Homo sapiens: one gene and its partner. The protein of the gene in region 2 interacts with the protein of the main gene of each other region in a pairwise test. Each region holds a gene or a part of one and is shown on either strand. Other genes may lie near its edges. The genes, in order: SMPD3 and PLEKHM1.

Region 1 (3,820 bases), on a different chromosome or scaffold from region 2:
CTGGCCACAGCCCTGGTTAGTGGTTCTAAGATGGGGCTTAGAACCCAGATTTTTTAATGCCTAAAGCATGTTCTTTCCACTGTCCTAAACTGTTGCTCTGTTCATTTAATTACCCAAAGGATACATTTCCGTTAACATAGGCTTCTTTGATCCAATACCAATGCAAAACCCAAATTTTAAGTTGAAATAGCCCAGGCACGGTTGCTCATGCCTATAATCCCAACACTTTGGGAGGCTGAGGCAGGAGGCTTGCTTGAGGCCAAGAGTTCAAGACTAGCCTGGGTAACATAGTGAGACCCCGTCTCTATAAAAAATAAAAACATTAGCTAGGCATGGTGGTGAATGCCTGTAGTCCCAACTACTTGGGAGGCTGAGATGGGAGGATTGCTCGAGCCCAAGAGTTCAAGGCTGCAATGAGCTATGATTGTACCACCACACCCTAGCCTGGGCAACAGAGCAAGATTCTAAAATTTTTTTTAATTTAAAAAATTTTTAAAATAAAGTTGAAATAGAAACAAATAATAGAAAAAAATAGGAAAAGTAGAATGTCTGTCTATATATCTGTTGTCTAATATGGGGCCATAAGCACTTGAAATATGTCTAGTGGCAATTAAGATGTGCTATAAGTATAAAACATACACTAGCTTTTGAAAAATTAGTATAAAAAATGTAAAATGTTGCATTAGTAATGGTAATATTGATTACAGGTTAAAATAATATTTTAGATATATTAAGTAAAATATATTTAAATTAATTTCACTTGTTTCTTTTTACTTTTATAATGTGGCCACTAGAAAATTTATATTGTATATGTGGCTTGCATTTATAACTCACATTATATTTCTACTGGGCAGTGTTGTTCTAGACTGTTTCCATTTAGGAGGATATTTTCTTTATAAACTGAGGCATTTAGCAAAGTAGGTCTGTAATCAATTAGCCTGGGATTTGAATCCTGGCTCTGCTATTTGGGCTGCATAAACTTGAGCAAGTTGTGCCTTAGTTTCCTCACCTGCAGAATGAGGTGATAATAAAGCCTACCTCCTAGGTTTTGAGCTAAATCACTTAGAACAGTGACTGACAGGTCCAGAGTGAGTGTTCACTTAATATTAACTATTGTTATTACTATTGGAGGAAGCTTATGAAGTGTTACAAGATAAGGGCAACAGGAAGGAGAGCAAGCAGACAATTTTCAGATAAATCAAGCAAAAGATTTATTACTAGTTAAAACATGATTGAAAACACTTGCTAAGTATGCGGCCCCTATTTTCTGGCAGATAATGATGTCGAGGAAAGATTTCAATCCATTTACATAAGCATACAATGAATAAACAAATTAGCTAACTGCATTGTGCACAGGTCTTGACTTCAGCTAATGAGTTGAGGAAGAGGATGATTGTACCAGATGACTCAAGAGCTCTAAGTCTCTTGGACTCCCAGATTCCTCAGGGGAATCAGGGGAATGACAACCTTGTGCTCTGGGAGAAAAATTCTGGACAGGAATCAGACATACCCAAGGTCAAAGCTACTCTGCCACTTATTGGCCTTTGACAAGACACTGAGTCTCAGTTTTCTGTTCTGTAAAATGGAGATAGTACCAACTCTGTTGCAGGTTGTAGTGAGGATTAAATTAGATAATACAAATAAAACATCAGGTACATAGTAGGCACTCAACAAATGACAGCTGTGACTAAATGGGATTTCAGGTATTCTTTAATAGAGAACTTTTTGTTATTTAATATAGAATTTGCAGTTCAGGCCAAGCGCAGTGGCTCACGCCTATAATCCCAGCACTTTGAGAGGTCGAGGCGAGTGGATTTATTTAGTCCAGGAGTTCAAGACCAGCCTGGGCAACATGGTGAAACCCCATCTCTACTAAAAATACAAAATATTTGCCAGGCATGGTGGTGTGCACCTGTAGTCCCAGCTACTCAGGAGGAGGCTGAGGTGGGAGGATCACCTGAGCATGGGAGGTAGAGGCTGCAGTGAGCCAACATTGCACCACTGTACTCCAGCTTGGGCTACTGGAATGAGACCGTCTCAAAAAAACAATGAAAAAAAGAAAGAGAATTTGCTGTTCAGAATCTTCAGTGCCTTTTCTACAACTCTACTGCGTCATTCCCCATCCTTATTCAGTGCCTGAGGAGATTGAAAGGACAGTTTCACCTGATTAAGTGTGTCTACACCAAAACGTAGGATATCAGTAACTTTGGGCACACTCTACACAATCTTTCATGTTCTTCTCTGTCCAATTAACACACATGAGGCTCTTTCCTGGGATAATGAGGCAAGTAGCAAAATGGGCATTGTTCTCCATCATGTTTACCCTGAAGTTCTGACCTCGGTGTTTACAGCACTTTACAAGTAGCTTTGCTTTTAAAAAGAGAGAACGTAAATCTGGAAACCAGAGCCCAGAGCCATTTCTCCTGACTCCTAGGGCAGGCCATGGGTCCATTCACTGCATAGCTCTGAGGGAACACATATTGTTGCTGTTCTCAACCATCACCTTTTTTTCCAAAAGTTTGCCTTCTGGAGGAAGACAGCCAAAGAAATATGTATTAAGCTCAGTGAAGGCTTATGTTAACAGAGCACGTTGAACTGTAAAGAAAATACTCAGATTAGTCCTACAGGAAAAGTGAGGATCACTTCAAATGTTTTAGCAGGAGAGCAACACAGATTTCCTGACTCAAAGCATAGCGGGTGAATTGAGGTGGAAGGAGGCTCACCTCTGGTTCTGTTGGGAGGCCCCTGACTTTCAGGTACCAAGTACCAGTGCTAAGTTATTTGGGGATAGTCTGGTGTTAATATGCACATTTTCCTACTCATTCTTTCTTTTGTTAATTCAACAAATGCCAAATGATGGATAGCTAGAGTGGGGTGTTTTGAGAACCCTTCCCCAGGAGGAGACCAGGGTCTGGCTGGGGAGAGGAGAGATGCTCATATGCAGAGTGAACCAAGGAACGGGGGCTGGAGTAACCACAGGAGTCCTGATTAAGGCAAGTTGGCTATGGCAGTGGAAAAGCTATGGATGCCAACCAAACTTGAGTCTGAATCACATTTTTACCATCAAATGTGTGGCCTTGGGCAAGTGCTTTAACCTTTCCAGACTTCATCTTTCTCCTCTGGGGCAATAAAACTAACTTTTCCCGCCATGGCAATTACATGGCAACATATATGAAAATGCTTAGAGACAATACTAACCCTCGTTCAAGTGTTTACAGTGGGTCAGGCATTGTGCTCAGCAATACATATGTGTAAAAGAATACCATTATTATCCTTACTTTACGGCTGAGGAAAGCAATGCTCAGGGACTTTAAGTAACTTGCTTAAGGTCACGCAGACAGTAAGAGGACCAGGACCCCAACCCAGGCAATCTGACTGCAGAGCCTGTTCTTAACCACTGAGATCACTGCTTCTCTGGTTCAAGATCAGCAAGAACCCAGTAACTATTATTTTGAAGGAGGGAGGGTGATTTGTGGGTCAACTTGTGGAGAAGTCTTATGCTTGGTCTTCAAGCATGGGTACAATATGGATAATCTCTGAGGGGTGAGTGGGATGGGGAAGGAAGGCAAGGGAAAGTTGTGATCAAATGAACAGGGGTAGGAATGACAATGGTATGTTTGGGAGCACTGAAATGGAGAAGAGTTTCCATATGAAATAGATGTTTGGAAAGAAGAGTTGAGAAAGCCTTGAATGTCAGACTAACAAGTGTTAGAGAACCAAAAAAGCTCATAGGCAAAGAAAGGGATATGAAATCTGAGGCCATCAGTTTGAGGCATCTCACTGAATCTGGGTAATTTGTTGCAGTGTTGAGTGTGCTCAC
Region 2 (3,820 bases):
CTCCAGCCTGGGCAGCAGAGGGAGACTCCGTCTCAAAAAAACAAAAAAACAAAAAAACAAAAAAACAAACAAAAAAAACGATTTTCATCACCCCAAAAAGAAATACTGTATATTAGTGATTGCCAGGGGCTGGGAGAAAGGGGAATACGAAGTGAATGCAGTCACTAATCTATTTTCTGTTTCTGTGGCTTTGCATATTTTGTACATCTCACATGAATAGATATCAATACAGCATATGACCCTTTGAATCTGACTTATTTCACTTAGCATATTTTCCATCATGTTGTAGCATGTATCAGGACTTCATCCCTTTTTATTGCCAGAAAATATTCCGCTGCCTAGATATACCACATTTTATTCATCCATTCATCAGTTAATAGACATTTGGGTTGTTTCTACTCTTTTGCTATTATCAATAATGCTGCTATGAACATCCATGTACAAGTTTTTGAGTGGACTTATATTTCTAGTTCTCTTGGGTATATATCTAGGAGTGGAACTGTACACATAACCCTATGTTTAACTTATCAAGGAACTGCCAAACTGTGTGCCAAAGTGGCTGCACTATTTTACATTCCCACCAGCAATATATGAGTTCCAATCTCTCCACATTTTTGCCAGCACTAGTTATTGCCTTTTTTATTACAGCCATCCTAGGGGGTGTGAAGTAGTATCTCACTGTGGTTTCGATGTGCATTTTCCTGATGTCTAATGATAATGAGCATCTTTATTGGCCATGTGTGTATCTTCTTTGGAGAAGGGTCTATTTAAATCCTTTACCCATTTTATAACTGGATTATTTGTCTTTTTATTGTTGAGTTATAAGTGTTCTTTATACATTCTGGATACTAGACCCTTATCAGATATTTGATTTGCAAATATTTTCTCCCATTCTGTGGGTTGTCTTTTCATTTTCTTGGTAGTATCCTTTGAAGCTCAAAAGTTTTTAATCTTGAAATAGTCTAATTTTAAATGTTCTTTTAAAAGCAAGATGTTATTTGTATATTATATTTAAAAAGTACATACATACTTCGTTCAATTGAGCACCTACTAGGTGTTGGGTTAGGGTATACAGGGAGAAATAAGGCATACCCTCAAGAAAGGCATACCCTCATGGAGTCAGTTTGTGCAGCTGTTGTTAGAAGGCTGGGTTGGCCAGGCTTCTGCCCTAGCTCTGGAGGGTCCTGGGGTGGGATTCGGCAGGCACTGGGGGTGGGAGAGTGGGGGTGCAGAGGGGAGGGAAGAGCCTCTGCATGAAAGCCAGCTGGGAAACAGGTGGAGCTGGACTCTCCTGTGGCCAGGACGGGGAAAGGCACGTCTCTGAGAGCTACAGTTTCTTTCAAGCAGAGTTCTCTGAGCTGGGAAGCAGCAGTGGGGAGGAAAGGAAATCCTGGCTTCTCCCCGAAAGCCATCTCAGGATGCTGCTAAGGGACCAGCCCCAAAGCTACCTGACTTCCTGCCTCTCCAAGAGAACAGAGAGCTCTATCTGGAGTACCCAAGATAGCCCAGGAGGGTGCAAAGGGCTGTCCAAGAAAAGGTCCTAGGGGGCTCCAGTGAACTGCTCACAAATAATTACATTTAGAATATCCTAGAAAATGGTAAGTGTTCAGATACATGTAAGTTACCAATTTACCCCCATTACTGAAACAACAAACCAGTGCCTGGGAATATCTGTTTCCCACCCATTCAGTGCTTTGGCCAGACTGTGACCAAATCATGGCCTAAGGGCAGAGGGCTGAAGGGCTGAATGGAAATCCTTGGTCTTCAGGTTACTGATCTTAAATTCCCACTGCTTTTCATAAATCTCCATCTTATCACCAATAAGGTGATCTAGAAAAGACAGGGTCTCCTCAGAGCCTGCTTGTGCTGTAACTTTTTCTCAACCTGGTCTCTCTTGCAGGACAGTGCCCAAGGAAGTGAGCCAAGCCGATGATACAACTGTCCCCTGCAGCCCTTCCCCGCCCTTGATCCTCCCTCACCCACCTACCGGGATGGCAGCCTGGGGGTCCAGTCCATTCTCCACCACTGAAAGCATCTCCACTCACGCAGCTGCTCCCTCAGAGAATCACATGACACCTGAAGAGACAGATGGCAGCCAGATGAATGGGCAGGGAACTTTCCCCCAGCCAGAGTCCATTCCCAGCAAGCAGCAGGAGGTCAGCCTCTCTTACTCAAACTGCAACCAAAAAGGCCTTTGCAGAACACAAAAGTAAAAACTGATAATAGATTTGAAGGAAAGAAACAAGGAAGGAAAGCCCAGGGGGCTTAGTCGTTGGGAGGCAAGGAGTCCTGGGTGCCAGGGGTGGGTCCACCCCAAGGAGTAGGTGGTAAGGGCGCTTCACATCAAATGCTGCCCAGAAAGCCAAGGCCCTGTAGGATTGAAACCTGTAGGCAGGGAACGACAGGCTGATTCAGATACGGAGCTGCAGGTTCGAGGGGGAGGCTGCAGCTGAAGGTGGCAGGAACCCAATGGGACCAGGAAGCAGGGGCTCACAGGCTCACACATCACATTCAGGGGCTGGGTCCTGCAACACCCTGCCCCCACCCCTCACTCCTGTCCCAGTCCAACATCTGCCAGCTCAGCAGTAAAAAGTACCACTGGAACGGCTTCAAAAGGGGAGGGCTCCCTTGCTACACTTCTGCTCCTCATTTGGGCTTCGAGGGTCTGGCTTGAGCAGCACAGACAGGGACGTGTCTAACCGGGATGACCATGAGGTCTCATCGCAGTTTGCCACTAACCAGGTAGGCATGCTCAGACCTCTCAGATGGAGAATGTGTAAAATGCCTGTCACGGGGCCTGATATGTACCTGTACCTGATATGTTGTACCTGGCATCTGTCATCCCAGTGGATGTGGCCACCTAAACCTACAGACCAAGAATGTCATCACCTAAATGAGTATGCAGGAAGAGCTGAAGTCAGTGAGTGGTTAAATCCCTCAGGGCTGCCAGCTTCCTCCTGGAAGTGGGTGGGGTGGGGTGGGGTGGGGTGGGGTGGGGCGGGTGGGGTGGGGACTTTAGCCTGAGCCTGAGGGGGCTGCTGACTGGCTTGGCCCCACCACAGCAACTTGGACAGACCTGGGCCAGGCAGGCACATTCACACGTAAACAAATCTCTAGCCAACTCCTGGCTGAGCATCAGGGGAAAGGGAAAGGTGATGTCTGTCTCAGCTCTCAATCACCGCACAAAGAAGTTAACAAAACCAAGAAAAGTTAAATGGGCTCAGTTCTCTTTACATATATTGCCTAATTTATGTTCCTCCTAAGGACCCTAGGAGTGCTGTTTTATTGTCTCCACCTGACAGATAAGGAAATGGCAGCTGACCCAGGTCAAGGAAGTTCCTGAGGTCCCAGGGCTGATAAGCGGCCTGACTCCACCACCAGCCCCCAGGAGGAAGCCAACCCCAGCCCTAGGAAAACCCGATTCCTGAGTGAGTGCTGTAAACCAAAAATAAAATTCTAAGCTCCCCAACTGCCTGAATGGGCCCCCCTTGGCCAAAGGGATTTCAAAAAAACTGAAAACTGAGTTCAGGCCATGACACGAAGTGGGGCGTGGGCCATGCCTCATCCTAGCCTCTCCCTTTTGGAGCTTAGACACAACTGACCAGCATTAACATTAAAACAGACTCCTAAGACTGACAGAACAGACTCTCAGCAATTAAGATACCAACTCCAACCTGACTGGTCTAACATCACATGGGAGATAACAGGCCCTAAGGAAATCAAAGTATCTTACCCCCAAGTATATTTTTGACATAGTTTGGAATGGCCCTGCAAAGCCATCTCTTGTTGGGAAAATTTATGTCCTGCAGAGATTCCCTTC

The links.
Region 1: the proteins of PLEKHM1 (region 2) and SMPD3 interact in a two-hybrid assay, tested with the Homo sapiens proteins (one large-scale study listed by IntAct).

What each region holds. Positions count from the first base shown.
Region 1 is NC_000016.10:68,438,435-68,442,254, reverse strand, and holds part of SMPD3 (sphingomyelin phosphodiesterase 3), read left to right. Parts: intron 1-3,820. UniProt on the Homo sapiens protein: Catalyzes the hydrolysis of sphingomyelin to form ceramide and phosphocholine. Ceramide mediates numerous cellular functions, such as apoptosis and growth arrest, and is capable of regulating these 2 cellular events independently.
Region 2 is NC_000017.11:45,480,450-45,484,269, forward strand, and holds part of PLEKHM1 (pleckstrin homology domain-containing family M member 1), read right to left. Parts: intron 2,077-3,820; coding exon of another isoform or gene 2,036-2,076; coding exon 1,988-2,035; intron 1-1,987. UniProt on the Homo sapiens protein: Acts as a multivalent adapter protein that regulates Rab7-dependent and HOPS complex-dependent fusion events in the endolysosomal system and couples autophagic and the endocytic trafficking pathways.